2 linked regions of the Homo sapiens genome follow. The protein of the gene in region 1 purifies or fractionates together with the protein of each later gene. This does not show direct contact. Each region holds a gene or a part of one and is shown in the gene's direction. Other genes may lie near its edges.

Evidence for each region.
Region 2: the proteins of MGAT4B (region 1) and SLC26A2 fractionate together in Homo sapiens (co-fractionation; one large-scale study listed by BioGRID). This does not show direct contact.

The regions. Positions count from the first base shown.
Region 1 is NC_000005.10:179,804,654-179,808,561, reverse strand, and holds the start of MGAT4B (alpha-1,3-mannosyl-glycoprotein 4-beta-N-acetylglucosaminyltransferase B), read left to right. Parts: upstream 1-1,695; 5' UTR 1,696-1,978; coding exon 1,979-2,075; exon of another isoform or gene 2,076-2,169; intron 2,170-2,227; exon of another isoform or gene 2,228-3,908. UniProt on the Homo sapiens protein: Glycosyltransferase that catalyzes the transfer of GlcNAc from UDP-GlcNAc to the GlcNAcbeta1-2Manalpha1-3 arm of the core structure of N-linked glycans through a beta1-4 linkage and participates in the production of tri- and tetra-antennary N-linked sugar chains.
Region 2 is NC_000005.10:149,963,595-149,967,402, forward strand, and holds part of SLC26A2 (sulfate transporter), read left to right. Parts: intron 1-3,808. UniProt on the Homo sapiens protein: Sulfate transporter which mediates sulfate uptake into chondrocytes in order to maintain adequate sulfation of proteoglycans which is needed for cartilage development.

The DNA.
Region 1 (3,908 bases):
ACAGGCATGAGCCACCGCGCCCGGCCTCTGGGTGACTAAGTTTTAACATTAAGTAACTCATTAACAATTTCTAAGGCCCTTTATGTCACAACCTAAGTGAAAAGCCATTATCCTTTGCCACAAATAGAAGACACCTGTGAAAACACGACAGTTTCCTCTAGAAGGCTCCTATAAGTCCCAGTCTCTAGTTCGGAAAGTTCCAGGAGCACTGAGTGGGGAGCCCTCTCCTTTAACAGGGGGCCTCAGGATCCAGCCCACTTCAACCTCTGGCTCGGCCACCCCCTTCTTGGCATCAATCTCTCTGTCCAGACCCCTCGAAGCTCCCGATTCCACTCAGCCCCAGGTGTGGGCCGGGGCTGAACTAGGAAGACAAAGCCGCATTCAATCTCAGTCTGAGTCCAGCCCCTCGGGCCTCCCCCGGGCGGGTGGGGCAGAGGTCCCTGCAGCCTCCACCAGGAACCGGGCCCCTAGGTCTGGGAGGTCCAAGCCGGCAGCGGGCCAGGCGCTGCCCAAAGCCTGCCCAGAGGCGGCGCTGGGCCAGTCCCTTTATAATTTGCGCCCTTCCTGGTTCCACAGAGGATTGAGGAACGCCTGAAATTAGAACGCAAATGGGCCGTGCGTGGTGGCTCACGCCTGTAATCCCAGCACTTTGTGAGGCCGAGGCGGGCGGATCACAAGGTCAGGAGTTCGAGACCAGCCTGGCCAATACGGTGAAACCTCGTGTCTACTAAAAATACAAAAATTAGCCAGGTGTGGTGGCGGCCGCCTGTAGTCCCAGCTACTCGGGAGGCTGGGGCAGGGGAATCGCTTGAACCCGGGAGGCGGAGGGTGCAGTGAGCCGAGATTGCGCCACTGCACTGCAGCCTGGGCAACAGAGCGAGACTCCGTCTCAAAAACAAACAAACAAAAAACAACAAAAAACAACAACAACAAAAAAACAATGAAGGCGTGGGCCCCCATCAATATCGGGCTGGGCTGGGCGGGGCGAGGTGGCCCCTACACCACCGGGGGCAGGGCCCGTTGCTCCCGTTAGCGGCGCTCTCGGGCCGCCCCTGCCCCGGGAAGCCGGTACGGTTCTGGGCTGGTCACTGCTCTGCATCCACGAGCATCGGCCCTGATACCGCCTAGAAAGGCCCATCGTTCCCGCCTCCCGGGCCCCTGCGCGCCTCCGTCCAGAGGCCCAGAGGAAGCTCCTGAGCGGGGAAGCGCCCTGGGCGGCAGCGAAGGCAGCGGTCGCTCCCGGCTTCAACCGCCCAGTCCCCCGCGCCACCCAGAGCCCCTCACGCCCGGGAAAGAGCCCCGAGAACGTGCGAATGGGGTCGGGGTCCGCGCGCGGAGGAGATGTTGCTGAGAAGGGTACCGGGGTCCCGGAGCGCCGCCCCCGCCGCCCGCCCCCCGCCCCGGCTGCGGTCGACCTGCACTCCCACTCCAGCCTTACCTGAGGCCGACTCGCACGAGCCCACGCGGGGCTGCGGGAGCCGATCGGGATCCCGGCCGCCGGCCCCCACCCCACCCCCTCGCGGCGCCGGCGACGGCGGTGCTGCGGCCCCTTTAAATCCGGGCCGCCCCGCCCTGCGCCGTCGACTCCGCGGCGGCCCCAGATCCAGGCCCCAGATCCAGGCCGGGCCGCGGCTCTCGCCGCCCAGCCCAGCCCAGCCCGGCCCGGCCCGGCCCTGCCGCGGAGGCGAGGCCGCCAGTGTCCCGCGCCCCTGATATCTGCAGTGAGCCTGATACCTGCCTCTGCCCTTCTGAGCCTGTTCCTCTTCCCTGAGTACAGGGCACAAAGCTTGCGCCCTGAGGGGCGGCCGGCGCGCTCCCTGGCCCGGTCCCCGCCCGGCCCCGGGCCCCCCGCCCCTCCCCGACCCGGGGCCGGGGCCCCTGCCGCCGCCGCCGCCGCCTTCCGACCCCTGCGCCCCGGCCCCGGTCCCCCGGGCCATGCAGCCTCGGCCCCGCGGGCGCCCGCCGCGCACCCGAGGAGATGAGGCTCCGCAATGGCACCTTCCTGACGCTGCTGCTCTTCTGCCTGTGCGCCTTCCTCTCGCTGTCCTGGTACGCGGCACTCAGCGGCCAGAAAGGTGAGCGCGACCCCCGCCCGGCCCGCACCTGGCGCACCTGGGCGTCGGCGGCGGGAGCGGGCCCGGCGGTGGCCGCGGAAGGCGGCCGGAAGCCGACGCAGGCGCCCCTTCCCCGCCCGGGCGGCGCGAGGACGCCCCTCCCACCCTCCCCCACTTGTTTGCTGCTGGAGCCGCGGCGTTCTCCTCGGGCCCGGGCCGCGCCCGTGGGTGCTCCGGACCGGACTCCGCGGGCGCAGCTGTCCCGACGCTGAGCTGGGGACCCGTGGGGTTCTCGGAGAGGGGCAGAGACCCAAGGTCACAGAGGTCCCGGAACGCCAGCCACAGCCACCTGGGCAGGAGCTGGGGCGGCGTGAGGGACACAGGCGCGAGGGCACCCCCCCACCCTGCTGCCTGCTGCCCCGCGCCGGCCTGGGCGACCCCGGCGTGACACCCGGTCCTGGGACTCCCTTCGGCGCCCAGAACGCGTCGGCAGCATCCGGCCTGTGGGAGGGAGGGAGGGAGGGAGGGAGGCGTCCTGAGGCAGCCCGGCCCCTGCTGCCCTGCGCTCCCGTGCGGCCCCAGCCCGTCCTCCGCACCCCGAGCTTCCCGGGCTGGCCCCCGCCCTCCGCGTGCGCCCAGCGCTCTTGCAGGCGGAGGGTGCGGGCCGATCCCCCCGCGCCGCCCCGCTGGCCGGTCTTGGCGATGGTGGGGCCGAGTAGGGCCTGAGCCCTCGGAGGCGCTCTTCCCCCGGCCTGGAGGTTCCGGGAGAGTGGCCTCCTGCCTGCCTGCCTGCTGGAGGCCTAAGCGGGCTGAGTCCAGCTGCCCCTCGGCCTCCCCGCCACCTGCTTCCCTGTTTCCCTGTCCCGGAGCGCCATCCCAGAGAGGCTGCGGAGGAGGGCGAGGGAACCTGGACCCTTCCGGACCCTCCGAGCTCCATCTACCCACGCCGAGCTCTGCCAGCACGCCCGCCTGCCGCACTTGTTCTGCCAGAGCAGAGGCCTGGGCTGGCCTTGGGGCTCCAGGGCCAGAGAGGCATCACCCAGGGACTCTGCGGGGAGCCTGCCTGACACGGGAGGGATGGCTGGGCAGAGGCCGTGCTGGCGGGGTATATTATCAAGGGCAGGCATGGCTGGGGCAGAATTCTCTGTAGGTAGGGTGTGTCACCTGGGGAAGGACATTCTGGGTCCTTGGCAGGGTGACTATAAAAGCACACTGGCATGAAGGCCTAGGTGGGGCCATATCTGAAGGGCTGGGGCATGCTCTTTGAGTCGTGGGTAGAGCCGTGAGCCCTTGCCCTTTGTCCTGAGCCAGTGTGTGCCTCCCGCAGCAGCCACATGCCCGCGGATTGATGTCAGGAGCCACCTCTGCAAGCCTGGCTTACCACAGGGAGCCAGGCTCCAGGACAGCAGAGTGAGGGAGAGGCACTGGCTCCATGGCACCCACTGTGTCTGGGGGGCATCCAGGAGGCTGGCTCTCTGAGGGCCTGGGGAACAGGAGAGCAAAGAAGGGGAGCACTTAGATTCACGAGCCCAGCCCCTAGGGGATAGAAGCCTAAGGATCCTGTGAGGTATGAGTATGGGGTGACATAGGCCTCCCTTGTCGAGGGGCTGTCACTGTTTCTGTGGTGACCCAGTAGTACCAGGTCTTTGGAGGCCTCAAGAGAAGCTGGGAATCTGGGCTCTTATGTGAACCCATCTCGTTGTCACATGTAGAAAATCTGTCTTAAACCCCTGGTGAAACCAGACGTAGCCAGTCGGAGGCCAGATTGGAACCTGGCCTCCACTTTGCAGCCAGCGGGGGTCCAGGAACTTGAGGGAAGGACCCAGGAAGTGGAATCTGCAGGGAAGGAAGGAG
Region 2 (3,808 bases), about 30 Mb from region 1:
AGTAGAGAGGGGGTTTCACCATGTTGGCCAGGCTGGTCTCGAACTCCTGGCCTCAGGTGATCCACCTGCCTTGGCCCCCCAAAGTGCTAGGATTACAGGCATGAGCCCCTGCACCCGGCCTGCTATTTTGCATATTTGTTTAACTTTTTTTTTTTTTTTTTTTTTTTTGTGGAGACAAGATCTTGCTATGTTACCCAGGCTGGTCTCGAACTCCTGGCCTCAAAGTGATCTTCCTGCCTTGGCCTCTCAAAGCGCTGGGATTACAGACATGAACCACTGTGCCTGGCCTCTGTTTTATATATTGTATCTAGGAAGGGACCGATTTATATAAGGTGTCATTTGAGGTTGGGCAATGAGCAAAGGCCCCAAGGGCAAAGGCTGCTTGATATTTTCATGGACTGGTGATTGGAACACTAGTGCATAGGAGGAAGCAAGACAGTGGCAGTTTTAGGCTCATGCATAGAAGCTTATACCAATGTTTTTAGACCATATTTGGTAGGAGATAGGGAGCCAGTGCAGATTTTTGGGGAGCATATCCAAATGGTTGACCTCATCTTGCTAATGAATGCTTCTTTTGAAGAAGAGGCATAGTGCTTTAAAAATGTAGGTTCAGGCTGGGCTCTTCCTTTGCTCATGCCTATAATCCCAGCAATTTGGGAGGCCGTGGCAGGCAGATCACTTGAGCTCAGGAGTTCAAGACCAGCCTGGACAACACGGCGAAAACCTGTCTCTACAAAAAATACAAAAAAATAGCTGGGCATGGTGGCGTGCACTTGTGATCCCAGCTACTCAGGATCGCTTGAGCCCAGGAGGTGGAGGTTGCAGTGAGCTGAGATCATGCCACTGCACTCCAGCCTGGGTAACAGAGTGAGACCCCATCTCAAAAATAAAAATAAAAAATAGCCAGGCGTGGTGGCTCACGCCTGTAATCCTAGCACTTTAGGAGGCCGAGGCGGGCGGATCACGAGGTCAGGAGCTCGAGACCATCCTGGCTAACACGGTGAAACTCTGTCTCTACTAAAAATACAAAAAATTAGCCAGGTGTGGTGGCGGGCACCTGTAGTCCCAGCTACTTGGGAGGCTTAGGCAGGAGAATGGCATGAACCCAGGAGGAGGAGCTTGCAGTGAGCCAAGATTGTGCCACTGCACTCCAGCCTGGGCAACAGAGTGAGACTCTGTCTCAAAAATAAAAAATTAAAAAAAAAATGTAGGTTCAATATTAGAGGAAACTGAGTGACCATTATACAGGAACTGTGTACTATTTTTACAGCTTTTCTGCAAGTCCACAGTTATTTCAAAATAAAAATTTTTTTTAAATGTAGGTTCAATAAAGTGTTTAAGGCTGAACTATGCCTGCAACTTTCAAATAGTTGAAAAACAATAATGACAAAACCCATATAAGTATGGAGAGAGAGTGTGTTAACATCTTATGAACTGTAAAATTGCTAAATAGGTGAATTGTTAGTATGGAAGTGTTCCATGTATCATTCTTTCAACTTTTCTGAAGATTTAAAAACAGCTTCAAAATAAGCAATCAAGCGACAGTATACGTTTGAATCAGGCAGGCTTGTTCAAGTCATGATTCCCCTACTTACAAGCTGTGTGTGGCTGGGCGCGGTGGCTCACGCCTGTAATCCCAGCACTTTGGGAGGCCGAGGCAGGCGGATCACAAGGTCTGGAGATGAGACCATCCTGGCCAACATGGTGAAACCCTGTCTCTACTAAAAATACAAAAATTAGCCGGGCATGGTGGCAGGCGCCTGTAGTCCCAGCTACTCAGGTGGCTGAGGCAGGAGAATCGCTTGAACCTGGGAGATGGAGGTTGCAGTGAGCCGAGATCACACCACTGCATTTCAGCCTGGGCAACAGAGCAAGACTCTGTCTCAAAAAAAAAAAAAAAAAAAAAAAGCTGTGTGAAGTATTGGAAAATTATTTCTAAACTACATATTCTAGTCTAGTTTATTTTTATTAAAAATATATTTTTAATTATTTTTTTTTCTTACACTGTAGCTCTTACCAGTCTAGTCTGAGATTTTTCCATATAAGAGAGGAGACTTACTTTGGTTGTTGACTTGTTCACATTAATGCTGGGTTAATGTTAAGACTTCAGGTTTTCCACAAACTTGAGATCTTTAGGTTGTTTTTAGGTCGACTCTAGTTTTCCTGTAATTATCTGATGTATATACACTTACAGAGACTGGCATAGGCAATCTATTAGAGGAAAAAGGTTAGGAGTCAGGATACTTGGGTTCTGGATCCATCTCTGCCTTTAAGTAGCAAATGATTTCACTAATCTGAACCTTTATTTATTTATTTTATTTTATTTTTTGAGACAGAGTCTTGTCTGTCACCTAGGCTAGAGTGCAGTGGCGCAATCTCAACTCACTGCAACCTCTGTCTCCTGGGTTCAAGTGATTCTTGTGCCTCAGCCTCCCAAGTAGCAGGGATTATAGGCATGTGCTACCACGCCTGGCTAATTTTTGGATTTTTAGTAGAGATAGAATTTCACCATGTGGGCCAGGCTGGTCTTGGACTCCTGAGCTCAAGTGATCCGCATGCCTCGGCCTTCCGAAGTGCTGAGATTATAGTTGTAAACCACTGGTACCCAGCTGAACTCTTATTTCTTACCAAAAAATCATGGCGGTTGGATTTCTTGATCTCTGTCTAGCTCTAAAGTCCTGTAATTCAGGAAAACTACCACTTAATGATTTGATCATTTAGTTTGAACTGTCTCATGGTTGGGACAGAGGGTTATGACTTGCCTGGAGTCCAGGGCTCCTGACAACAGGTTACTTTTTCTACTGACCCTCACTGCCTATGGTTTTAGATTGTGTTATGTGTTAAAAGCAGTTACTTAAACACACATACACAAACATGCATATCACACCATATTTACAACAGGTTGTGAAGCTCAGTTTTAAATGGCCTAGATTTCTTAGGAAAATCCCAGTACAGGTTGAGTATCCCTTACCTGAAATGCTTGGGACTGGCAGTGTTTCCAATTTCTGAATTTTTTTTTTTAATATTTGTTTTATACTTACTAGTTGAGCATCTCTAATCTGGAAATCCAAATTGCTCCAGTGAGCATTTCTTTTGAGCATCATGTTGGTGCTCAAAAGTTTCAGATTTTGGTGCATTTTTGATTTTGGATTTTTGAATTAGGGATACTCAACCTGTATCTGATTAATATGTCATCAAATCTATCCAATGAAGCTGTCATATTTTAAAACTAAATATAACTGTTTTTAGAAAAATATTACAAAAAGAAATAAAACCTTGCTTAGATACTTCCTCCCAAAGTTGTGTGTGTCTGGGGACTTAAGAAATACATTTCCCAAGGCTGCGTATCCAGAGTATTGGAACATTCAGTGACGATTTCTTAGGAATTGAAATATAAACTGCAATTGAAAACAAAATGACTTAGCTGGGCACAGCGGCGTGTGTCCATAATACCAGCTAATCTGGAAGCTGAAGTGGGGGATTGTTTGAGGCCAGGAGTTCAAGGCTGCAGTGAACTATGATCATGCCACTGCACTCCAGTCTGAGCAACAGAGTGAGACTGTGTCTCTTAAAGAAAAGAAAAAGAAAATTATGTAACAGGTTATATTCAAGCTACTCTTTTCCCCTTCAGATAAGAATTAGACTTTATAGCTTTATTGTAGTATAATTGACATACAATAAGCTGTACATATTTCAAAGGTACTCTCTCTATATATATACATAAAACTGTCACCACAATCAAGATAGTGAACATATCCATCAATCCCCAAAATCTCCTCATGCCCCTTTGTAATCTCTCTCTCCTACC